Linked DNA regions of Homo sapiens: regions 1, 3, 4 and 5 are each linked to region 2. The links come from fine-mapping of genetic effects on gene expression. A gene starts in region 2. Each other region holds a variant in brackets. All regions are shown on one strand. Distances are between the middles of the regions.

Region 1 (5,103 bases), 330 kb after region 2:
TTTCCGCGATAAAGACTTTTCCAAGTGGTCACTTGAGCCACCTCATAAGGTCTAGCTTGGATCCCACTACCAACCCTTGAGTCAGGATCATGGTTGGGGGCGGAGGGAGGAACTGGCTTCTAGAGGCAGCAAAAGACTTGTGAGGAGCCCTGCCCCTTGGCTCACAGGGCAGGAAGCGCCTGGCGGAAGGTGAAGCAGTTGAAAGCACTAGAGCTGGAAGTGAGTGAGGGGTAGTCCTGCCTGGGGCGTAGGGTTCCGGTCCCAGGCAAAACATTATTTTAGACCAACAGGAAAAACAAAAGTAATGGTTCCCACCAACTTCCCAGCTCCAGGAAGCTGGGCATGACTAGTGATTTTTTTTTCTGTTCCTCTAGCCTGTGAGCATTTCCACTCGTCTGCCAAGGCAGAGACAGCCCCATCCAGAAGCAAGAATGAGACCTCGGGGCCCTGGCGCCCTTGAGCCAACCCCATCTCTGTTCTCACAACTTGCCTTGCCTGACCTCTGGAGAAAAACTTCAGAAAATATCACCCTTTCTTCCCACCTGCTCCCGCTGGCCAAAATCCCCATCAAAGCCTGGCTTCAGCCCCTCAGACTGGGAACTCTATCCAAATGGAGTGTGGGGAGTGTGGGTGAGGAAGGACGGAAGGAAGTAGGTCACACGCTGGCTACCGCACAACGGGGAAGAGGCCAACCTCGGAAAGGCAGAAGAGTGGCCGCCATGCCGAGCTTCCAGAGATGGAGAGAAGGTCTAGGAAGCCACCTTGGGGAAGCCGCCTGAGCAGGAGCGGGGCAGCCAGGGATCAGAGCCCACGGCCTGCTGGGGACCCATCCTGGGCACGGGGCTCTGGGCTCTGTGCCCATTCTCTGATGTGCCACATTGTTCTGCTACTTCCTTCTCTGGAAGTAATAAGGGGGTTGGGGGTGGGACAGCACGGCCAGGAGTAGATGGAGCGGGGTGGAGCTGCCAGTGGGGGAGGAGGCTGCGGTTCATTCCCACGACCAGCTGCCCTTCTGGCCGCCCTGGGACTGCGTGGGAAAAGGTCTGGGAAGTATGGGGGATGGTGTGTGTGTGTGTGTGTGTGTGTGTGTGTGTGTGTGTGTGTGTTTTCATGTGTCTGACTCCCTTGCTTGGCTTCAGTCACAGGACAAAGCCCTTTGAGAAACAGTCACCAACCTGTGTTCCCACTGGGCTCTGTCCTGGGAGAGGCACAAGAACCCGCCCTGACGCCTGAGAGAAAGACTCTGAAGGCCTCAGGACCAAATCCCTGGAGGGGTCTTGGCGTCTAATGAATCTAGATTGACTGACTTCCCTGGGATGCTTCTGGAACCTTCTGCTAAGCCCTCAGCTTCTTGGCAGAGCTCTATTACTAACTGGATATCAGAATATGGGTGCAAACTAGACATGGGGAGTGAAGTCAGCCATTCTCACAGCATCTACCTAAGAAGGCCAGGATCCTCCACAGCCACGTAGATCGTAGAGCCAGTGGCATGCCGGGGATGATATACAAAGACAAGAAACTCTGAAACAGAGAACACAAACTAACAGCCCATAGGCCAAATGCAGCCCGCAGGCACATGGCTTATTTGGCCAACACAGCATTTAAGAAATGTTTGAGCCGAGGCTGGGTGAGGTGGCTCAGGCCTATAATCCCAGTACTTTGGGAGGCCGAGGCAGGTGGATCACCTGAGGTCAGGAGTTCAAGACCAGCCTGGCCAACATGACAAAACCCCGTCTCTACTAAAAATACAAGAATTAGCCAGGTGTGGTGGTCCATGCCTGCAGTCCCAGCTACCCAGCTGCTTGGGGGGCTGAGGCAGGAGAATCGCTTGAACCTGGGGGGCGGAGGTTGCCGTGAGCTGAGATCACACCACTGCACTCCAGCCTGGGCGACAGAGCGAAACTCCGTCTCAAAAAAAAAAAAAAAAAAAAAATCCCAATTTCTACAGTCTCTTGAAAAATCAGACGATATGGCTAACATTGATGCATATGGCCCCAGGACCACAGCTGATGGGGCTGAATAATGACCACCCTTTAGAAAGACCTTGGACTGTCCATTTTGCCACTGTCCACACCACTCTGTATTGTCTCCAGCAGTGAGGCCGAGTATGAGTTGCTGTTGCTCATCACACTTGAATGGTTATTACACTGTTTTCTGTACCCTCGTCTCATTCAAAAGTGGGGATATGGCCAGGTGTGGTGGCTCACGCCTGTAATCCCAGCACTTCGGGAGGCCGAGGCAGGTGGATCACTTGAGCCCAGGAGTTTAAGACCAAACTGGGCAACATGGAGAAACCCCATCTCTACTAAAAAAAAAAAAAAAAAAAAGTGGGGACACGAAAGAAACTAAGAGGGCCACTGTTTGTAGCGAGCACATTTCTACCCCAGCCAGGCCTATCTATAAGCAAATAAAGATGGGATTTCATGTCCTCCCATCAGCTTTTCTGCACCCTCCCTTCTACCTTCCAGTGGCACAGTGCTTAATGACAGCTGCTGACAATACAGTGTCACAGGCCTTGCGCCAAAATTACCCCCAACTCCTTCCCTCACTCCCAAATCACAACTCTTATTATCTAAGTGAGCAACCCCAGTTGCAAAACACAAAGGAGTAATAAGTCCTGTAGAAATTCTCAGCTCCACCCCAGCCCCTGGTTGCCAATGACCCTGTGAAGAAGCTAAAACTCCTTAGCTCGGACATTCTGTCACAGAGAGACCTGCAGCATGTGCCAGATGAACTTGCATCAACTGAAAACCAAGGTCACCTCTGGAGACCAGAAATGGAAGTGACAGTCCCAGGCCTATTCATAAAGCTTCAGTTTTTTACAAGGAGATTGTAATCATGCAAAACTTGCGTAATTAAAATTAATAATAAACAGAAATGCCTCAGCCTAGTTCCTGTGAGTCTGACCCCAACTTACATTTCCAG[G/GT]TTTTTTTTTTTTTTTTTTTTGAGACGGAGTCTCACTCTTGTCACCCAGGCTGCAAGCTCCGCCTCCCGAGTTCACACCATTCTCCTGCCTCAGCCTCCTGAGTAGCTGGGACTACAGGCACCTGCCACCACGCCCAGCTAATTTTTTTTTTTTTTTTTTTTTTTTGTATTTTTAGTAGAGACAGGGTTTCACTGTGTTAGGCAGGATGGTCTCGATCTCCTGACCTCGTGATCCACCTGCCTCGGCCTCCCAAAGTGCTGGGATTACAGGCGTGAGCCACCACGCCTGGCCTTTTTTTTTTTTTTTTTTAAGACATGGTCTCACTCCAGTGCCCAGGCTGGAGTGCAATAGCGTGATCTCAGCTCACTGCAACCTCCACCTCCTGGGCTCAGGTGATACACCCTGCCTTAGCCTCCTGAGTAGCTGGGACTACAGGTACATGCCACCATGCCCAGCTACTTTTTGTATTTTTTGTAGAGATAGGGTATCTCTCTGTTGCCCAGGATGGATACATTTCCAGTTTATCTCAGATTACTCCCTTCCATGAACAAGTCCACTCACAGAACCCTCTTTCTCCTACAAAGAACGTCTTTCTCCTCCTCCTTTGTCAAGCAACCTCTAGCTCATCTCTCAAGACTGTAGTCTTTCAATAATTTAGCTCATGCATACCCTAAACATTTTTAAAAATTATGTACCCCTTCAATAAAGCTTGTTTTAAAAGTGAAGTTTTTAGGCTGGGCATGGTGGCTCACGCCTGTAATCCCAGCACTTTGGGAGGCCGAGGTGGGTGGATCACCTGAGGTCAGGAGTTCAAGACCAGCCTGGACAACATGGTGAAACCCCGTCTCTACTATAAATACAAAAATTAGCCGGGCGTGGTGGCAGGTGCCTGTAATCCCAGCTACTCGGGAGGGTGAGGCCAAAGAATCGCTTGAACCCAGGAGGCGGAGGTTGCAGTGAGTAGGGATCACACCATTGCACTCCAACCTGGGAGACAAGAGCAAAACTCTGTCTCAAAAAAAAAAAAAAAGGGGAAATTTTAAAATTTGATTTAAAAAAAATTTTAACCATGTTTAAATAGTTGCAAAAGGCTGGGCACAGTGGGACATATCTGTAATCCAAGCACTTTGGGAGGCTATGGTGGGAGGATTGCTTGAGGCCAGGTGCTCAAGGTTACAGTGAATAATGATCATACCACTGCATTCCAGCCTGAGTGATAGACTGAGACCCTGTCTCTACAAAAAAATATAAAAACAGTTTCGAAGGATGTGATTTCTTTGCAATTTTTTTTTGTATTAGAAATATTGAAGCTGGACACAGTGACTCATGCCTGTAATCCCAGCACTATGGGAGGCCGAGGCAGTGGGCAGATTGCTTGAGGCCAGGAGTTTGAGTCCAGCCTGGCCAACAAAGCAAAACCCCATCTCTACTAAAAGTACAAAAATTAGCCGGGCATGGTGATGCGTACCTGTAATCCCAACAACTCAGGAGGCTGAGGCATTAGAATTGCTTGAACCTCGGAGGCAGAGATTGCAGTGAGTTGAGATCAACCCAGTGCACTCCAGCCTGGGTGACAGAGTGAGACTCTGTCTCAAAAAAAAGAAAGAAAAAGAGGCCAGGTGCAGTGGCTCACGCCTGTAATCCCAGCGCTTTGAGAGGCAGAGGCGGGCGGATCACTTGAGGTCAGGAGTTTGAGACCAGCCTGGCCAACATGGTGAAACCCTGTCTCTACTAAAAATACAAAAAATAGCCAGGCGTGGTGGCGTGTGCATGTAATCCCAGCTGCTTGGGAGGCTGAGGCAAGAGAATCGCTTGAACCCAGGTGTCGGAAGTTGCAGTGAGCCAAGATCATGCCACTGCACTCTAGCCTGGGCGACAGAGTGAGACTCCCTCTCAAAAAAAAAAAAAAAAGAAAGAAAGAAAAAAAGAAAAAGTAAGCTGTTCTTTAGCACAGGAAATTTTACATCACTCCTTTTTCTCCTTGAACTTGTATTTTCTTTTTACTTCTCTCACATAATGCTTTCCTAATACAATATGTACTTTATCCCTTTTTTTTTTTTTTTTTTTTTTTTGAGATGCAGTCTTGCTGTGTTGCCCAGCCCAGGCTGGAGTGCAATGGCACAATCTCAGCTTACAGCAATCTCCGCCTCCCGGGTTCAAGCGATTCTCCAGCCTCA
Region 2 (5,091 bases):
TTGAGACCAGCCTGACCAACATGGAGAAACCCCATCTCTACTACAAATACAAAATTAGCCGCGCATGGTGGCACATGCCTGTAATCCCAGCTACTCGGGAAGCTAAGGCAGGAAAATCGCTTGAACCCGGGAGGCGGAGGTTGTGGTGAGCCAAGATTGCACTATTGCACTCCAGCCTGGGCAACAAGAGGAAACTCCATCTCAAAAAAAGAAAAAGAAAAAAAAAAGAAAAAGAAAAAGAAATACCTAGATAACTTGTAAAGCATTGCTTCTGGGTGCCTTTGAGGGTATTTCCAAAGGAGACTGGCATGTGAGTCAGTGGACTGAGTGGGGCAGATCTGCTCTCAATGTGAGCGGGCACCATCCAATTAACCAAGGACCCAGAACAAAAAAGGTGAGAAAAAATATTTCTTCCTTCTGGAGCTGAGACACTCTTCTCAGACTTCTGCTCCCAGACATCAGAACTCCAGGCCCTCCACCTTGAGACTTGAAGATTTCACAACTTGGACTGAGCCAGCTACCAGCATTCCAGGGTCTCCTGCTTGCAGATGGCCTGTCATGGGTCTTTTCAGTCTCCATAATTTCCTGAGCCAATTCCCTAATAAATCTCCTCATAGATCTGTATCTATATCTATCTGTTATCTATCCTATTGGTTCTGTCTCTGGAGAACCCTAACACAGGGACTGAATAAATAAACAGGTAAATGACTTTGATACCTTACAATTATTATTAAATGTAGTGGAGTTTTACAAAGAAACAAAACTTGTACCCACAATTAATAAACATTCACAGAGTATTTTGACTTTTTCTTAAAAAAAAAAACCCTGGAAAATCATCTGCTTTCCAAATTAATGATATCTACGACAATCTAAATGGAATGTAAATCAATACACTTATGAGGTTTTGTTTTGTTTTTGTAAAAAGGCCTTGCTCTGTCGCCCAGGCTGGAGTGCAGTAGTGCAATCAGGGCTCACTTCAAGCTTGACCTTCCAGGCCCAAGTGATCCTCCCACCTCAGCCTTTCAAGTAGCTGAGACTACAGGCATGTGCCACCATGCCAGGCTAATTTTTTTCATTTTTGTAGAGATGAGGATTCTCCTTATGCTGCCCAGACTGGTCCGGAACTCCTGGGCTCAAGTGATCCTCTTGCCTCTGATTCCCAAAGTGCTGGCATTACAGGCATGAGCCACCACGCCCAGTGTGTGTGTGTGTGTGTGTGTGTGTGTTTGTGTGTGTGTCTCCGTGTGCGCTCGGGTGATCCTCCCGCCTCGGCCTCCCAAAGCGCTGGGATTACAGGCATGAGACACTGCGCCCGGCCAATACACTCATGATTTTAATTATAATATTTATGCCAATGAAAACACTAGCAAAAAGGTAAAACAGCTGCCAATTTAATGTGACCACTTAGTCTAAACAGGCTAGTAGAAATGAAGAACTTTTAACCTGCAAATGCAACAAAAAGCCAGAAATGAATGGGAAGACATTATGATCTCCAGAAAAGTTTGGCTAAATTTTCCCCAGCCCATTGTCTTAGCGGGGTAGGGAATTGCAGACAGCCCTTAAATACTGTCATTTTTGGTTGAGAACTCATGTGGAAAGTCCTCAAAGCCAAATTCCAACTCCTGTTTTACTGTTTTTTACCCTCGAGCTTGCTGAGTTGTCTTGGCTCTCCTGGAAAATACATGGCTCAAAAAATAAAATAGAAGTTTTAGCGGTGTGAATCTAGTAGTCGACTACAGGGGGTATTAAAAATAAACACTCCATCCCGGTTAACACGTGAAACCGCGTCGCTACTAAAAATACAAAAAAAATTAGCCGGGCGTGGTGGCGGGTGCCTGTAGTCCCAGCTACTTGGGAGGCTGAGGCAGGAGAATGGCATGAACCCGGGAGGCGGAGCTTGCAGTGAGCCGAGATCATGCCACTGCACTCAAGCCTGGGCGACAGTGCGAGACTCCGTCTCAAAATAAATAAATAAATTAATTAATTAATTAAAAAATTAAAACCACCACCAGAGCAAAAACTTACAGCGCTTACAATACCTTCCACGTGCTGTTTTATTTTACATAAAACCATGACGATTAAAAAGCTGGCCTCTCAGCTTTCCGGGTATTGGTTTGTTTTCCCCCTAAACTGTCGTTTTTATAGGCACTTGCACTGTCTTCTTAGCAGAATTGCCAATGGCCTTCCTCGAGTCCTACGTTTAGCGATTGGCAAGAATCATGCACTGACAGAGCTCGACTCCGGAGGGCACAAGGAAGTAGACAACAAAGCAGGAAGAAGCAGGAGGCGCACAGATGGGCGGGATCTGCACTGGAGGCGGTGCGACCTTGCGGGGCGGTGCAAGCTGGCGGAACCCGCGTGAGAGAGGTTGGTGTTGCGAAGGGAACTAGTCCGGTGCAGGACGTGGGGCTTTTGCAGCTCAGCTGGTTCCGGCTGGGGAAGATGGCGGTGGCTGGGGCGGTGTCCGGGGAGCCGCTGGTGCACTGGTGCACCCAGCAGTTGCGGAAGACTTTCGGCCTGGATGTCAGCGAGGAGATCATTCAGTGAGAACAGTTCGGGTCCAAGCGGGGAAGGAGCTCTGGGATGTGCACTGCCTGAGCGAACCGGGAAGCGGGGAGGACTGAAAAGTTAAGAGAGAAATGTGATAAAGGGGCTGCAGTCTGTAGTCTGTAGGCGTCGAATTTTGGCCTCCACCTTTGTAGTTTAGTTTCTGGAATAGGGTGTCCGGCTCCACAGTCTGCCGGTCGGGCTTTTTTCCTGGGAAGACGCCCAATCTGTAATAATTAGAAATGCAAGGCTGTCCCAGGAGCCAGTTTCCTTTCTAGAGAGAAGGGGCAGGTCAAACTGTATTTCCTAACTTTGAACCCCTTACTCTTTTATTTATTTATTATTATTGTTGTTATTATTGAGACGGAGTCTCTGTCGCCCAGGCTGGCGTGCGGTGGCGCGATCTTGGCTCACTGCAACCTCCGCCTTCCGGGTTCAGGTGATTCACCTGCCTGAGCCTCCCAAGTAGCTGGGATTACAGGCACGCACCACCACACCCGGCTAATTTTTAAAAATTTTTAGTAGAGTCAGTGTTTCACCATGTTGGCCAGGCTAGTCTCCAGCTCCTGATCTCAAGTGATCCGCCCGCCTCGACCTCCCAAAGTGCTGGGATTACAGGCATGAGCCACCGCACCCAGATATACTCTGAACATTTTAGTCGGCCCAATCTGAGTTGTGTCAGTAGAGCCAACAGGGTCAGCTGTGTCAATAGGACCTAGAATTTAAGTGGAAGCAGCGTGGTAGAGTACAAATAGCTTCTGACTCTGGAGTCTCAGGTTCTATATTCTGTTGTCGTTTACCTGTTTTAGAACCCAGGACAACTTAATTTTTCTCTCTGTACCCTGGTTTCTTCATTTATAAGATTAATCATTAGTAGAGCTTATCATGCTTTATGACTCCTATGAAATGGAGATGGTGTACATGACTTAATATCTACTTTCAACTGATTGAAGAACATTTGTTGCGCTGCTGTTACACGCCAGGTGCTGGGGTAACAAAGACAAGACAGTTGGGTTCCCCTTCGTTGATGAGTGCTGAGGTTGGGGAAATGAAGGGGCTTGTTGGAGCACAAAATAAAGGATTCTCATTAAGATTTGAAAAACTCGGAAGGTTTATTGGAAAGGATAACTTTCACCCGAGAACTAAGGAATAGACAGAGGTGGCGGTCCAAAGTGTTCAGGCAGGGGAGAAAACTACAAAAATGGGACTTGATCGAAGAACTGAAAGTGTTCCTTCATTTGATTCCTTGGTCACTGATGTTGAAACCTAAATTGCTGTTCTAGGGCTTTTGTAGGAAGTAAGATGAGTTTCTGAGTTTCGGAGAAAATAGACTTTTGGCAAGGAGACAGTTCAAGTAGGTTATTTTAATGGATTTTTTTGAGGCCCTAGGAGATGGCTCAAGCCCTTATTCCCAGCACTTTGGGAGGTAGAGGTGGGAGGATTGCTTGAGACTGGGAGTTGGAGACCACCCTGGGCAACATAGTGAGACCCTGTCTCTACAGAAATAAAAAAAGTAAACAACAAGATAAAGGATTTTTTTTAACACTAGAATAGACAACAAAACAAAACAGCGAAATCTTATGGTTTGGCTTTACCCTTGCTTGAACGCAGTCAGATTAAGTATTTAGTAGTTTTCAAACATTTTTTAAAGCAGTGGAATGCTATCAAATGAAATAATGAAACTTTGCAATATATAAAACAGAAAAGTGTTTTTTACGAATATAAGTTCAAAATTTTCACTTTTTTTTTTTTTTTTTTTTGAGACAGATTCTGTTGCCCAGGCTGGAGTGCAGTGGTGCGATCTCAGCTCGCTGCAACCTCCGCCTCCCACGTTCAAGCGATTCTCTTTCCTCAGCCCGAGCAGCTGGGATTACAGGCGCGCACCACCATGCCTGGCTAATTTTTGTATTCTTACTAGAGATGGGGTTTCACCATGTTGACCAGGGTGGTCTCGAACTCCTGACCTCAGATGATCCAACCGCCTCAGCCTCCCAAAGTGCTGGGATTACAGGCATGAGCCACCACGCCTGGCCCAATTTTCACATATTTATTGTAAATATGTGTAATATATTAAATATCAAATATATTAAATATTAAATATATCAAATATTATATTAAATATATTAAATATTAAATATATCAAATATTATATTAAATATATTAAATATGTGTATTATATTAAATACAGTATTAAAAAAAAAAGATTGAGGTGGCCAGGCGCAGTGGTTCATGTGTGTAATCTAAGCACTTTGGGAGGCCGAGGCAGATGGATCATTTGAGGTCAGGAATTTCAGACCAGCCTGGCCAACATGGCGAAACCCCCACTCTACTAAAAATACAAAACTTAGTCGGGTGTGGTGGAGCGTGCAGGTCATCTCAGTTACTCGGAAGGCTGAGGCAGGAGAATCCCTTGAACCGCGGGGCAGAGGTTGCAGTGAGCTGATACCGCACCACTGCACTCCATCCTGGGTGACAGAGTGAGACCTCGTCTCAAAAAAAAAAAGGAAAAAAGAAAGATTGAGGCTATTTTTGATAAATTAACAA
Region 3 (5,090 bases), 250 kb before region 2:
CTGTGTGAAGGTGTGAAGGTCTGATAATGACTTGATGCTTTGTCTCCATAGACATGAAAGCCATGCCCTCTGCCTCTAGATAGGGTGATCCAAGAGCTCCTGAACCTTAGGAGGTTCAAAGAAGCTCTACTGTCTGTGCCCAGGAGGTAGCCTGCCAGCAAGAGCCCTCAGGAGTTGCACACACAGCCAAAGGGTGTTCACACAGATCTCTGCCGGTCTAGCCAGGGGAGGCCAGAGTCTCGTCAGTCAAGGATGGGCTTCCCCCTTAGCTGTGTCCACAGCTGCTCAAGCTATACTGGTCAGAGTGGGCTTTGAAGCTCCTTTGTGAGCTCGAGCTGCTGACTGCCACTATGGGAGCCTTGCCACCTCCAGCCCCTCCATCCCAAAGACGCTCCTGCCACTGGGGCCCCAGGTCCTGCTGTATCAGTTCTCTTTGGTGGGGGGCTAAGGTTTGGGGCGAGGCAACCTGAGACAAGAAAACGCAGTAAACATTCTGATTCCCTGTACACAGATGCAGCACCAGGGGAAGGGCCAGTGGTGCAAGTATTTCTTTTTAACAGGTGAAGTTTTTGGAAAAAGTCACTCTCCCTACCCCTCAGTATCCTTACCATCAACTTTGGTTTTATCCTTCCAGTCTTTATTATATGCTTGCTTTTACATAGTTGTAATAATATACACATAAAGTATTTTGTATCCTGCTTTTATCATTCAACATTGTACATGTTATAAGCATTTTACTATATTGTTATATATCTTCACAAAGTTGATCTGTAAAGCTGTGTAATTTGAAGGCATCCATAGGGTGACTGTACCATAATTTTGATTCATCCCTTGTTGTTGGATTCTTGGTCAGGGGTTGTTTGTTTTGTTTTATTGGTAACTTTAAAATTTTGAATACAATTTCAGATTTACAGAAAAGTTGCAGGAATATCACAAAGAACTCCTATATATCTTTTATCCAGATTTACTGAGTGTTTACATTTTATCCCATTTGCCTTATCTATATTTCATGTTGCATTTTCTTAATCATTTGAGAATAATTTGCACAGATACCCCATTATGCCCAAAACAGTATGCATTTCCCTAAGAACAGGACATTCTCTTCTAAGAGAAGAAGAGAATTACTTTAAGCATTATTCAGTATTTTTTTAAGTATTATTATCAAAATCAGGAAGTTTAACAGTGATTTAATACTGTTATCTAACCCATGATTCATATTTAAATTTTGCCATTTATCCCAATAATGTCCTTTGTAGCCATTCTTTTACCTTGTGCAGGATCATGTTACATTTGTAAACGTGTGTCTCTCAATACTGCAGATTCCTCAACTTTCTTTTGTCTTTCATTACCATGACATTTTTGAAGAATACAGGCTATTTTGTCGAATGTTCCTCAGTTTGGATTTGTGTGATGGTTCCGCATGACTAGGTGAGGGTTTTGCATTCTGGGTGGGAATATCACAGAAGCAGTGTGTCGTCAGTGCGTCGTAATCAGCATATAATGTCAGTTGGTCCCATTAATGTTGTTAACTCTGTTCACCGCTTAGGTTGGTGTCTGCCAGATTTCATTTTAAATTTACGATTTCCTCTTTGTAATTTACAAGTAATTTGTGGGGAGATACTTTGAGACTATATAAGTATTTTGTTCCTCATTCACCAGTTATATAGTATCAGTTGATTAGTCTTGTCCCAGTTATTACTGTCATGATTGACCAACATGATTTCCTAACTCCATAATGCCTTCTACATTTATTGGTTGACATTCTACATACAAAGAAAAACATCCTTTCTCACCATTTATTTATTCACTTGTTTATCAATATGGATGCAGGGATTCCTGTTTTACTCAGAGTTGCAAGCCATTGCTTTGATTTTATCTTGATTCTCAAATTGTCCCAGATTTATAGCGGCCTCTTGTGTGTTTGTAGCTTGCTCCCATCATGTTTTGAGTACTTTCTTACCTTCTGGCATAACAAGATGTTCCAGGCTCATCTTGAATGTTCCCTACCCTAGCCCTGGAATCAGCCATTTCTCCAGGGAGTCTTGGTTCCTTATAATGGAGAATGGTATTTATTTATTTTTATTTGATTTGATTATTATTACTATTTTTGAGACAGAGTCTC[G/A]CTCTTGTCGCCCAGGCTGGATTGCAATGGCACAATCTCAGCTCACTGCAACCTCCACCTACCAGGTTCAAGCAATTCTCCTGCCTCAGCCTTCCAAGTAGCTGGGATTACAGGTGCCTGCCCCCACACCCAGCTAATTTTTGCATTTTTGGTAGAAATGGGGGTTTTACCATGTTGGGGAGGCTGGTCTCGAACTCCTGACCTCAGGTGATCTGCCCACCTCAACCTCCCAAAGTGCTGGGATTACAGGTGTGAGCCACCATACCCAGCCAGAGAATGTTATTTAGAAACCAAGATCTGGGTGCCAAATGTGCTGCTTGTTACTGGAATGTCATTGCCTCTAGGCTCTCACCATACAGTGCAAAGAGATGATAGATAGATAGATAGATAGATAGATAGATAGATAGATAGATGATAGATATAGATAGATAGATAGATTGATTGATTTGTAGAAACAAGATAGGTTAGAGATACCTGACATAAATAGATACTAAAAATCATGAATTCACACTGATGCTTTGAGACCAGCCCTGTAGGTTTATTCCAGTCTGCCCCCTTTTCCATGTTGTTAACTCTTTCCTCCAGAGAGACAAAGATTTCAGGTTGCTTTGTTAAGTTCCATCTAATGATCATTCTGACGTAAGTCTGTTTTTCTTATTTCCTTGGAATGATGTCTCCTCTGGTTTCAGAACTTCCTCCTCTGCTTCCTGTATCCTGAGGCTGGCGGGGCCAGTTGTCTTTAGGGCTTGTGCATTTTTGTAAAGAGCTTGCACGTGTGGAAATCAAGTAGGCCAGTAGTGGGTTAGGGGTACTGAGCCAGAAGCCTCTACAAGGAATAACAGGAGCACAAAGGAAGAAGGTGGTATTCCAGCTGGGGACCCAGGAGGGAGGACTTTGTGGAGAACCTGATGCTTGAACTGAGTCTAAAAGGTGTAAAAGTGTTTGTTGCTTCTGCCTCCCTGTCTGTCTGGCAGGGTGAGGTAGGCGCATCTAGGGAAATGTCAAGTGGCTTGGTGTAGGGTAAAGTCAGTGAGGCCCATGGAGAAAAACGAGCAGGAGCCACATCACATGGGTGTCTGATAGGACCTGGGAGGCGCTTTCCACATTACCATTGTCGCTTCGTGATCTGGACACACCAGAAGGCGTGAGACTGGAGGCAGGAAGAGCAGCCAGGCTTATCCCTACCCTCAGGAGAGCTGAAAAGGGCAGGTATGGTGGGGCCAGAGCTCAGGAGAGTTTCGGAACCACTGAGATCGGTCCTTGATTTGATGAGAGGCTTGAGGGGAGAGGGAGGTAGCTAGGATGCCCCGCAAGCTTCTGGCCCAGACACTGGGCAGACAATGAAACCCTTTGTAACACATGAGGCAATAGGTTTGGGGCAGATGGGAGGGGAAGCAGTGGTGGGGGCAGTGAGTGCTGAAGGTGTTTTAAGAAGCGGCTCTGGGCCAGGCACAGTGGCTTATGCCTGTATTCCTAGCATTTTGGGAGGCCGAGGTGGGAGAATCACTTGAGCCCAAGAATTTGAGACCAGCCTGGGGAATATAGTGAGACCCTGTCCCTACAAAAATAAAAACAACTAGCTGGGTGTGTGGTGGTGCATGCCTGTAGGCCCAGCTACGCGGGAACATCACCTGAGCCCAGGAGGTTGAGGTTGCAGTGAGCTACAGTTGCGCCACTGCACTCCAGCCTAGGTGACAGAGCAAGATCTTGTCTCAAAAAAAAAAGCAGCTCTGGATGGGAAGGGAGGCCAGTTGCTTTAAGTAGGGGAGATAGAGTTAAAGGAGGCTTTGTTTTATTTAAAGGTGGGACAAACTTAAGCATGTTAATAAAATTCAGAGAAGAGAAAGAGAATGACTATCAGAGCCATGTTTGGAAGAAAATGGGGTCCAGAGCACAGGAAGGGGACCTGTGTTCAGAGGGTGCCTCACTGCTGAGGCCACAGGAAAGAATCTGTAGGTGGAGGGGAGGCCGAAGAGGGGAAGTTTCATGCTTGATAATTAAAATTTTCTGAGATAGGAATGTCATATTTACCTATTTAAGCCAAGTTTTTTTAGATAAAAGGTATGGAACCTGCTTTCCCCTTGGCTAGTTCAGCGTTTGGGCTCCGGAGTGCTGAAGATGAGGACTGGACTTCGAGCTGGTGTGATCCCAGTATTCAGTGTCAGTACTCAGTGACAAAATAAATGAGAGAAACGGGAATAAGAATTGTCGCCTACACAAAAATACCAGCAACTGTTAACTCTTCCCAGAAGATTTTCATTCTGAATGCTCCTGTAGCTAGGAACCCTAAAAAGTCTTTGAAGCAACTCAAGTTTTAAAAAAGGGGAGGAACTCCTGGAAATCTCAGGATGGGGCCAAGATGTGGCTGGAGAGTGTGTGGTGATGGAGGGCGTGTCTTTTGCCGAGCACACTCAGGGCCCACGGGAAGCCCATAGACTTCAAGGACATCAAGCCCCAAGGTGGTGGGATTTTCCCCACCAGTACTTGGCAGCCTAGGGGGAAGGGGAGGGCGGGAGAAGATAATGGGGATCCCTGGCTCCAAACATAGGAGGACACATCTGTGCTACAGTGCGCACATGCCTGGATGTACACTCTGTCTTTGGAGACACTGGCTAAGATTCTCTGCTCCATGTTTGGACAGGGTCGTGCCTGATCTGAGATAAATGGACAAGAACAACTGAAGCCTGTCTTCTGGTGCATGTGTCACCTGCCGATAACTGCATCTTGTGATAAAGTTGGGTGATTTACAGTCTCCACCAAATGCTAAACTCTGGGGTCTTACGCCTTTATAACTCCATGGGCCCCAGCAAAGGTTCAGGCTCAAAACAGGTGTCAAATAGATAACTGTTGAATGATTGTTCCCCAGTTGCAGGCTCTGCCACCTGGCGTTCATACTGTCTGTGAAAGGACCCAGCTCACCTTTCCCTCTTTATCTCCCAGTCCTTCCCAACAGCGCCGACACCTCATG
Region 4 (5,103 bases), 410 kb after region 2:
CCACACCTGGCCCTTCTTTTCTTTTCTTTTCTTTTGAGACGGAGTCTCACTCTGTCATCCAGGCTGGAGTGCAGTGGTGCAATCTCAATTCACTGCAACCTCTGCCGCCTGGGTTCAAGCGATTCTCCTGCCTCAGCCTCCCGAGTAGCTGTGATTACAGGTGCTTGCCATTCAGCCTGGCTAATTTTTGTCGTTTTAGTAGAGATGGGGTTTCACCATCTTGGTCAGGCCAGTCTTGAACTCCTGACCTCGTAATCCACATACCTCGGCTTCCCAAAATGCTGGGATTACAGGTGTGAGCCACTGCACTGGGCCTTTTTTTTTTTTTTTTTTGAGATGAAGTCTCACTCTGTCACCCACGCTGGAGTGCAGTGGCAAAATCTTGGTTCATGCAACCTCCACCTCTTGGGTTCAAGCGATTCTCCTGCGTCAGCCTCCTGAGTAGCTGGGACTACAGGTGCGCGCCACCACACCCAGCCGATTGTTTAATATGTTCAGCAGCAAGCGCGTTTCACCGTATTGGCTAGGCTAGTCTCAAACTCCTGACCTTGTGATTTGCCTGCCTCGGCCTCCCAAAGTGCTGGGATTACAGGTGTGAGCCACCAGGCCCCGCCCTCTTTTCTTTTTTAATAGAGATGGGGTCCCTTTCTGTTGCCGAGGTTGGTCTCAAACTTCTGGGCTCAAGCGATCCACCCGCCTCAGCCTCACAAAGTGCTGAGATTACGGGTGTGAGCCACCGAGCCCAACCAAGTATTTTTTCGTGTTTTGTTTTTTTTAATCATGAATGGGTTTTGTATTTTGTCAAATGCTTTCTTTATGTCTTTTGAGATAATCATGTTTTCTTATTCTATTAGTAAAATATATTACATTGATTGATATTTGGATGTTAAACCAACCATGCATTTCTGGAATAAATTCCACTTGGTCATGGTATAATTTTTTGTATATGTTGCTGGAATTGGTTTGCTAGTGTTTTGTTGTTGTCTGAGACAGGGTCTCACTCTGTTGTTCAGGCTGAAGTGCAGTGGTGCAATCATAGCTGACTGCAGCTTTGAACTCCTGGGCTCAAGCGATCCTTCCTGCCTCAGCCTCCCAAGTAGCTGGGACTACAAGTGTGGCCGCCATGCCCAACTAATTAAAAAAAATTTTTTTTTTCTAGACACAAGATCTGTTGCCCAGGCTGGTCTTGAACCCCTGGGCTCAAGCAATCCTCCAGCCTCAGCCTCCCAAAGCACTGGGATTACAGGTGTGAGCCACTCAACCTGGCCACTTTCCTGGTATTTTGCTGAGGATTTTTGCATCCATATTGATAAGAGATATTAGTCTATAGTTTTCTTTGAGATGGAGTCTAGCTCTGTTGCCCAGGCTGGAGTGCAATGGCACAATCTTAGTTCACTGTAACCTCCACCTCCCAGGTACAAGAGATTCTCCTGCCTCAGCCTCCCTAGTAGCTGAGATTACAGGTGGGTCACCATGTTCTGCTAATTTTTTTGTATTTTTAGTAGAGATGGGATTTCATAATGTTGGCCAAGCTGGTCTCGAACTCCTGACCTCAAGTCCCAAAGTGCTGGATTACAGGCATGGGCCACCATGCTTCACCTTGAGTAGATTTAAATTGATTGGTTTTTATTTTTCTTAGGGGTCATGTTTTCCTGTCTCTTTGTATACATGCTAATTTCTGTTGGATGTCAGACACTGCCAATTTTACTTTGTTAGGTACTGGATTTTTTTTCTTTTCTTTCTTTATTTAAAATTTTTTCTTTTTAATTTCTTGTAATACTCTCCTATCCAATGGAGATTTTGTTTGTTTGTTTGTTTGTTTTCAGACGAAGTCTCACTCTGTTGCCCAGGCTGGAGTGCAGTGGCGCAATCTCAGCTCACAGCAACCTCTGCCTCCCAAGTTCAAGCGATTCTTCTGCCTCAGCCTCCTGAGTAGCTGAGACTACAGGCACACACCACCACGCCCAGCTAATTTTTGTATTTTTAGTAGAGATGGGGTTTCACCATATTGGCCAGGCTGGTCTCGAACTCCTGACCCTGTGATCTGCTTGCCTTGGTCTCCCAAAGTGCTGGGATTACAGGCATGAGCAACCGCGCCCGGCTGATTCTTTTTTTATATATA[C/CTT]TTTTTTTTTTTTTTTTACTTTTTTTTTTTTTTATTGATCATTCTTGGGTGTTTCTCACAGAGGGGGATTTGGCAGGGTCATAGGACAATAGTGGAGGGAAGGTCAGCAGATAAACAAGTGAACAAAGGTCTCTGGTTTTCCTAGGCAGAGGACCCTGAGGCCTTCCGCAGTGTTTGTGTCCCTGGGTACTTGAGATTAGGGAGTGGTGATGACTCTTAGAGCATGCTGCCCTCAAGCATCTGTTTAACAAAGCACATCTTGCACTGCCCTTAATCCATTTAACCCTGAGTGGACACAGCACATGTTTCAGAGAGCACAGGGTTGGGGGGTAAGGTCACAGATCAACAGGATCCCAAGGCAGAAGACTTTTTCTTAGTACAGAACAAAATGAAAAGTCTCCCATGTCTACTCCTTTCCACACAGACACGGCAACCATCCGATTTCTCAATCTTTTCCCCACCTTTCCCCGCTTTCTATTCCACAAAACCACCATTGTCATCATGGCCCGTTCTCAATGAGCTGTTGGGCACACCTCCCAGACGGGGTGGTGGCCGGGCAGAGGGGCTCCTCACTTCCCAGTAGGGGCGGCCGGGCAGAGGAGCCCCTCACCTCCCGGACGGCGTGGCTGGCCGGGTGGGGGGCTGACCTCCCCACCTCCCTCCCGGACGGGGCGGCTGGCCGGGCGGGGGGCTGATCCCCACCTCCCTCCTGGACGGGGTGGCTGGCCTGGCGGGGGCTGACCCCCACCTCCCTCCCGGACGGGGCGGCTGCCGGGCGGAGACGCTCCTCACTTCCCAGACGGGGTGGCTGCCGGGCGGAGGGGCTCCTCAATTCTCAGATGGGGCGGCTGCCGGGCGGAGGGGCTCCTCACTTCTCAGATGGGGCGGCTGCCAGGCGGAGGGTCTCCTCCCTTCTCAGACGGGGTGGCTGGGCAGAGACGCTCCTCACCTCCCAGACGGGGTCGCGGCCGGGCAGAGGCGCTCCTCACATCCCAGACGGGGCGGCGGGGCAAAGGCGCTCCCCACATCTCAGACGATGGGTGGCCGGGCAGAGACGCTCCTCACTTCCTAGATGGGATGGCGGCCGGGAAGAGGCGCTCCTCACTTCCTAGATGGGATGGCGGCCCAGCAGAGACGCTCCTCACTTTCCAGACTGGGCAGCCAGGCAGAGGGGCTCCTCACATCCCAGACGATGGGCGGCCAGGCAGAGACGCTCCTCACTTCCTAGACGGGGTGGCGGCCGGGCAGAGGCTGCACTCTGGGCACTTTGGGAGGCCAAGGCAGGCGGCTGGGAGGTGGAGGTTGTAGCAAGCCGAGATCACGCCACTGCACTTCAGCCTGGGCACCATTGAGCACTGAGTGAACCAGACACCGTCTGCAATCCCGGCACCTCCGGAGGCTGAGGCTGGCGGATCACTCGCGGTTAGGAGCTGGAGACCAGCCTGGCCAACACAGCGAAACCACGTCTCCACCAAAAAAATACGAAAACCAGTCAGGCGTGGCGGCGCGCGCCTGCAATCGCAGGCACTCGGCAGGCTGAGGCAGGAGAATCAGGCAGGGAGGTTGCAGTGAGCCGAGATGGCAGCAGTACAGTCCAGCTTCGGCTCGGCATCAGAGGGAGACCGTGGAAAGAGAGGGAGAGGGAGACCGTAGGGAGAGGGGGAGGGGGAGGGGGAGAGGGAGAGGTACATTTTTTTTTTTGAGACGGAGTTCCGCTCTTGTTGCCCTGGATGGAGTGCAATGGCGTGGGTCTCAGCTCACTGCAACTTCTGCCTCCCAGGTTCAAGCGATTCTCCTGCCTCAGCCTCCTAAGTACATGGGATTATAGGGGCCTGCCACCAAACCTGGCTAATTTTTGTATTTTTAGTAAAGACGGGGTTTCTCCATGTTGGCCAGGCTGGTCTCAAACTCCTAAACTAAGGTGATTTGCCTGCCTTGGCCTCCCAAAGTGCTGGGATCACAGGTGTGAGCCACCATGCCCGGCCAAATTATATTATTAATATAATGTTTTGGAGACAGGGCCTTGCTCTGTTACCAGGCTGGAGTGCAGTGGCATTATCATAGCTCACTGTAGCCTTGACCTCCTGGGCTCAAGTGATCCTCCTGCCTCAGCCTCCTAAATAGCTGGGACTTCAGGCACTTGCCACCTGTTTTACATTTGTTTACATTTACATTGTAAAACAGGCACATGCCTGCCTGTTTTACATTTGTTTTTGCAGAGACAGGGTCTCACTATGCTGCCCAGGCTGGTCTCAAATGATCCTTCCACCTTGGCCTCTGAAAGTGCTGGGATTACAAGTGTGAGTCACGGTGCCCGGCCCTGGAAATTTTCTTTAGGCAGCAAGGTGGGGCATTTGTAGGGTTTTCCTCATTTGTTTGCTGACTCTCTGGAATCACTATTTTTCATCTTATGGGTTTCAATGTCTTGAGAACCATGTTTCACATACTTTGGGGAGTATTTTAGTTGTTTTTAGGTGGGAATGTAAATCATCTTGTCTAGAAGCAGAAATCCTTACAATCATTTATTAATTTCTTTAGCTGGCATTTATTGAGGAAGAGCTTAGTGTGTGCCCACCTTCCATTTGTCTTACAACTCTCCAAACACTCCAAATTTTCCTGCCTTGGGGTCTTTGCACAATTTTTCCTTTGTCTAGAATGGTCTTTCTAGCTCTACTTTCCTCCCTCAGCTCAAAGGGGCCTTCTCTGACTACTCTATGTAAAGTGAATCACTCTCTTTTTAATTTCCCATCACATTTCTGCTTTATTTTACAGCTTCTTCTACTAGAATAGAGCCAGACTTTTTTTTTTACTTTTTTTTTTTTTTTTGAGACGGAGTCTCGCTGTGTCGCCCAGGCTGGAGTGCAGTGGCGATCTCTGCTCACTGCAAACTCCGCCTACCGGGTTCATGCCATTCTCCTGCCTCAGCCTCTAGAGTAGCTGGGACTACAGGCGCCCGCCACCACGCCCGGCTAATTTTTTGT
Region 5 (5,103 bases), 200 kb after region 2:
CCTTTACTTCTATTTGAATAGTATTTCTTTCCTTATCTCATCTGTTCTTAACCAAGGCCCTCCTTTACTTCTTCCTAAAGTAGTCCACATCTGTGGAGCTTCTCAGGAATATACTTTTTTGTGAGATTTTTCTATAAGATTAAAATTATAAATTAAATGGCTAAAAATTTTTACATACTGTAAACAGACCCAGACAGTTAAAGAGATTATAGAGATTTGGCAGGAAAAACTCGATGCTTTTGGAAAGCTCTTGATAGTATTCACAGATAAGCGATAGTGAAAATTGAGACTAATGGATACTGGTAAAAAATTAGATGTGGTATGGTTGATCATACTTGTTGTGATTAAAGCTAAAACATTATTCAAGTTTGCTAGAAAGTTGAAGAGCTGAATTTGGGCTGGATGGAGAAGGTAAGAAAAAAACACACTGCACATGGTCCTCATTTATGAACTTAAATCTTTCCTGGCTGCCAACTACTTGCTGATTAGAAATCTGAACTCCCAACCTGTATACTAGGAAATCTAGCCTTTTATTGTCCTGGTTTAAGAAGGATTTAAATTGTGCTCAGTATTGAAGTTTTTGGGTCGGAACTATTTTAATATTATCTATGAATAAATATAAGGTCATACATATTAGTAGGGGAGAGAGCGTATGGGATAAATTGATCTCTCTCTCTCTTTTGCTCTTTATTTTGAGAGAGGGGTTCTTGCTCTGTTACCCAGGCTAGAGTGCAGTGGCATGATATCAGCTCACTGCAACCTCTGCTTCCTGGTTTCAAGTGATTCTACTGCCTCAGCTTCCTGAGTAGCTGGGATTAAAGGTGTGTGCCACCACACCCAGCTAATTTTTGTGTTAGTAGAGTTGGGGTTTTGCCATGTTAGCCAGGCTGGTCTTGAACTCCTGGCCTCAGATGATCCATCCACCTTGGCCTCCCAAAGTGCTGGAATTGCCCACGTGAGCCACCTGGCCTTCATATATAGAAAATATATATTTATTTTACATACACATAACACACACACACATATACATGCATATATATATATGTATATATATATGTATCTGGGTTTAGAGTAGTCATGTAACCCAGGAAAGGAATCCAGAAATCAATATAGACCTCCTTAAGATAAGAGCAGTAGCTTTCAATGTCAGTTTACAAGGTAATGGTTATACTAACCATAACCATTTTGTGTTTGTTGGCATTAAAAACAAACACAAAATGTTATCCCTTGAAGATAAAGACAAATAGGTTCAAAAGTAGAAAACTTTGTACATTTCTGATAATACCTTAAAAAGGTCCTGAGAAGAGTAAATAAACTACCCTGGAAATGTAGGCAATACCATAGAGTTTTCTTTAAGTTCCAGAAAGCCTGGAAGTTGGTTGAGTAGTATGTATCGAAAAGCCTTAAAGGCCGGGCATGCTCGTTTATGCATGTAATCCCAGCACTTTGGGAGGCTGAGCTTGGGAGGATTGCTTGAGCCCAGGAGTTCAAGACCAGCCTCCGAGGCCAAGTGCAGTGGCTCACGCCTGCAATCCCAGCATTTTGGGAGACCAAGGCTGGCGGATCATGAGGTCAAGAGATCGAGACCATCCTGGCCAACATGGTGAAACCCCGTATCTACTAAAAATACAAAAATTAGCTGAGTGTGGTGGCATGCACCTGTAGTCCCAGCTACTCAGGAGGCTGAGGCAGGAGAATCGCTTGAACCCAGGAGACAGAGGTTGCAGTGAGCCAAGATCGCGCCACTGCACTCCAGCCTGGGCGACAGAGACAGACTCTATCTCAAAAAACAAACAAACAAACAAACAAAAACAGCCTCCTCAACAAAGCGAGACCCTGTCTCTATAAAAAATGTTTTAAAAAAAGCCTCAAAATGTGCATACCCTTTTACTTGCTTATATGTAGGACTTCACCCTATGAAACTAGTGAAACAGGTGCAAAGATATTTCTCTCAGCCAGGCATGGTGGCTCATGCCTATAATCCCAGCACTTTGGGAGGCTGAGGTGGGTAGATCGCTTGAGCCCATGAGATTGAGAACAGCCTAGGCAACATGGTGAGGTCCTATCTCTACTAAAAATAATTTTTTTTTTTTTTTGAGACAGAGTCTTGGTCTGTCACTAGGCTGGAGTGCAGTGGCACGATCTCGACCTACCGTGCACCGGGTTCAAGTGATTCTCTTGCCTCAGCCTCCCAAGTAGCTGGGACGACCGGCACACACCACCACGCCCAGCTAATTTTTCTATTTTCAGTAGAGATGGGGTTTCACCATGTTGGCCAGGCTGGTCTCAAACTGACCTCAGGTGATCCGCCCGCCTTGGCCTCCCAAAGTGCTGGGATTGCGAGTGTCAGCCACCACACCCGGCCTTTTTTTAATCAGCTGGTGGAATGTGCCTGTGGTCTCAGCTACTTGGCAGACTGAGATAGATCACTGGATCACTGGAGCTCTGGGGGTCAAGGCTGTAGTGAGCCATGATTACATCACTGCACTCCAGCCTGTCAGCAGAGGGAAGACCCTGCCTCAAAGAAAAAAAAAAAAAAGATATTTCTCTCAGCCTTGTTTATACAAGTGAAAATTAGGACAACCTAAATATCCATCTATAGTTAATTGGTTAAATGAATCGTGGTTGGTTTGTTCAAAATAATTCTATTCAGCTGGGCATGGTGGCTCACGCCTATAATCCCAGCACTTTGGGAGGCCAAGGCAGTTGGATCACTTGGGGCCAGGAATTTGAGACCAGTCTGGCCAACTTGGTGAAACCCCATCTCTACTAAAAATATGAAAATTTAGCCAGCTCTGGTGGCAGGTGCCTGTAATCCTAGCTACTTGAGAGGCTAAGGCACGAGAATTGCTTCAACCCAGAAGGTGGAGGCTGCAGTGAGCTGGGATCTCGCCACTACACCCCAGCCTGCATGACAGAGTGAGACTGTCTCAAAAAAATAATAATGGTAATAATTCTGTTCAAGCATTTAAAATTATGTTTTAAGTTGGCCAGGCATGGTGGTTCACGAGGCCCGCAATCCCAGCATTCTGGGAGGCCAAAGCAGGCAGATCACCTGTGGTCAGGAGTTCAAGACCAGACTGGCCAACATGATGAAACCCCATTTCTACT[TAA/T]AAAAAAAAAAAAAAAAAATTAGCCCGGCATCTGAAATACCAGCTGCTTGGGAGGCTGAGGCAGGAGAATTGCTTGAATCTAGGAGGCAAAAGTTGCAGTGAGCTGGGATCGCGCCACTGCACCCCAGCCTGGGCAACAGAGCAAGACTCTTGTCTCAAAAAATTACATAAATAAATAAAATAAAAATAATGTTTTTGCTCTCTCCGGTCCGTGCCTCCAAGATGACAAAGAAAAGAAGGAACAATGGTCGTGCCAAAAAGGGCCGCGGCCACATGCAGCCTATTCGCTGCACTAACTGTGCCCGATGCGTGCCCAAAGACAAGGCCATTAAGAAATTCGTCATTCGAAACATAGTGGAGTCCGCAGCAGTCAGGGACATTTCTGAAGCGAGCGTCTTCGATGCCTATGTGCTTCCCAAGCTGTATGTGAAGCTGCATTACTGTGTGAGTTGTGCAATTCACAGCAAAGTAGTCAGGAATCGATCTCGTGAAGCCCGCAAGGACCGAACACCCCCACCCCGATTTAGACCTGCGGGTGCTGCCCCACGTCCCCCACCAAAGCCCATGTAAGGAGGTGAGTTCTTAAAGACTGAAGACAGGCTATTCTCTGGAGAAAAATAAAATGGAAATTGTACTTAAATAAATAAATAAAAATAATGTTTTAAGTTATAGCTAATTGACACAAAAATGTTCACGATGCAGTGAAATTCTGATAACCTTTCATAGTCTGAAAAATCTAGTTGTTCTAGGAGAAATAAGTCATCCAGAATGTTCTCTTGTTTGTTTTTGAGACAGGGTCTTGTTCTCTCGCCCAGGCTGGAGTGCAGTGGTGCAATCACAGCTCACTGCAACCTCCGCCTCCCAGACTCACGTAATCCTCCCACCTCAGCTTCCCCAGTAGCTGGGACTACTGGTGCGTGCCACCATACCTGGCTAATGTTTTATATATTTTTTGTAGGTACAGGGTTTCACCATGTTGCCCAGGCTGGTCTCAAACTCCTAGACTCAAGTGATCCACCTGCCTACAGTGCTGGGATTACAGGTGTAAGCCACTGTACCCAGCCATTCCAGAACATTCTGATGATTCAACCATAACTCATTTCATAGTATAATTGAGTGGATAAGAAGGGTTGGTGTTTGCTGTCTCGCCATATTAATAGTTTTGTGTTGGAACTCCTTGACTGTCAATCAAGTATTATGTTTGAGGAAGATGTAAACATTTAATACTTTTAAGATTAGGAGAGGTTTGAAGGGTTTTATGTCATGAACACACATATTAAGGAAGAAGCATGGCTCTGCCCTCTTGAAAGACTAAAGAAATATTCCATCAGCAGTTTACTTTAGAAGAACTGAAAGAATAGGTTGATACTGAACCCACTCCCAGAGCCAGGTAGCTGAAAGGGCACTGTGATTGTTATCTTACTAGGAACACGTGGAGTGGGAGTAAGGCAGTTTTCTGCAGAAAAGAGGGATTCTGGGCAGACAAAAACTACATATGCACTATGTTTTGTTTTGTTTTTTTTGTTTGTTTGTTTTAAATTAAAACCAGAAAAGGCGAAGACTTGGAGAATGCTCAAAATTTTTTTTTTTTTTTGACACGGGGTCTCACTCTGTCACCCAGGCTGGAGTGCAGTGGTGTGATCTCAGCTCACTGCAACCTCCACCTCCTGAGCTCAGGTGATCCTCTCACCTCAGCCACCTCAGTAGCTGGGACTACAGGCTCTTAACACCACATCTGGCTAATTTTTTTTTTGTATTGTTGGTAAAGACCGGGTTTCACCATGTTGCCCAGCCTGGTCTCTAACTCCTGAGCTCAAGCAGTCTGCCTGCCTCAGCCTCCCAAAGTGCTGGGATTACAGGCATGAGCCACTGCACCTGGTCACAAAATGTAAAGATTTTGAGGGCCATTGATTTTAAACTCCAGAAGCTGGTCCAATCAGAATGAACGTAAGGATTTTTGTTAGTGTGATTAGAAAAGAATGTGTCTCGG

Direction of the effects. Alleles are on the strand shown, and positions count from the first base shown. SD is a standard deviation of normalised expression in the study named. Not every link is listed here.
With allele G in place of GT in region 1, the expression in prefrontal cortex of the gene that starts at base 2,415 in region 2 is higher (moderate effect, 0.57 SD a copy in BrainSeq).
As copies of CTT replace C in region 4, the expression in lymphoblastoid cells after a statin of the gene that starts at base 2,415 in region 2 goes down (large effect, 0.84 SD a copy in CAP).

The links. PIP is the estimated chance that this variant, and not a neighbour inherited with it, causes the effect.
Region 1: its variant is the best candidate, but not a certain one, in a credible set for the expression of TRIP4 in prefrontal cortex (BrainSeq, PIP 0.86).
Region 3: its variant is the best candidate, but not a certain one, in a credible set for the expression of TRIP4 in whole blood (TOPMed, PIP 0.63).
Region 4: its variant is the best candidate, but not a certain one, in a credible set for the expression of TRIP4 in lymphoblastoid cells after a statin (CAP, PIP 0.65).
Region 5: its variant is the best candidate, but not a certain one, in a credible set for the expression of TRIP4 in monocytes after Pam3CSK4 (Quach 2016, PIP 0.59).

Annotation. Positions count from the first base shown.
Region 1 is chr15:64,717,692-64,722,794 of GRCh38, forward strand. It overlaps LOC124903507 (a long non-coding RNA gene), which reads left to right. Exons shown (of 3, transcript XR_007064679.1): 3 at 375-2,878. Among named protein-coding and RNA genes, the nearest start is that of OAZ2, 17 kb to the left of the region's middle. RefSeq lists an enhancer at 376-876. The variant G/GT (reference allele first, on the strand shown) is at 2,926.
Region 2 is chr15:64,385,422-64,390,512 of GRCh38, forward strand. It overlaps TRIP4 (thyroid hormone receptor interactor 4), which reads left to right and starts at 2,415. Exons shown (of 13, transcript NM_016213.5): 1 at 2,415-2,543. The coding sequence starts at 2,443. It also overlaps a transcript of PCLAF not described here. RefSeq lists enhancers at 2,130-2,630, 2,212-2,701, 2,631-3,131.
Region 3 is chr15:64,138,492-64,143,581 of GRCh38, forward strand. It overlaps SNX1 (sorting nexin 1), which reads left to right. Exons shown (of 15, transcript NM_003099.5): 15 at 1-5,090. Among named protein-coding and RNA genes, the nearest start is that of SNX22, 11 kb to the right of the region's middle. The variant G/A (reference allele first, on the strand shown) is at 2,123.
Region 4 is chr15:64,796,286-64,801,388 of GRCh38, forward strand. No RefSeq gene overlaps it. Among named protein-coding and RNA genes, the nearest start is that of RBPMS2, 23 kb to the left of the region's middle. RefSeq lists an enhancer at 2,977-3,879. The variant C/CTT (reference allele first, on the strand shown) is at 2,123.
Region 5 is chr15:64,589,644-64,594,746 of GRCh38, forward strand. All of the region lies in intron 2 of ZNF609 (zinc finger protein 609), which reads left to right. The region is part of intron 4 of LOC101930091 (a long non-coding RNA gene); the gene reads right to left. It also overlaps the pseudogene RPS26P50. Among named protein-coding and RNA genes, the nearest start is that of OAZ2, 110 kb to the right of the region's middle. The variant TAA/T (reference allele first, on the strand shown) is at 3,112.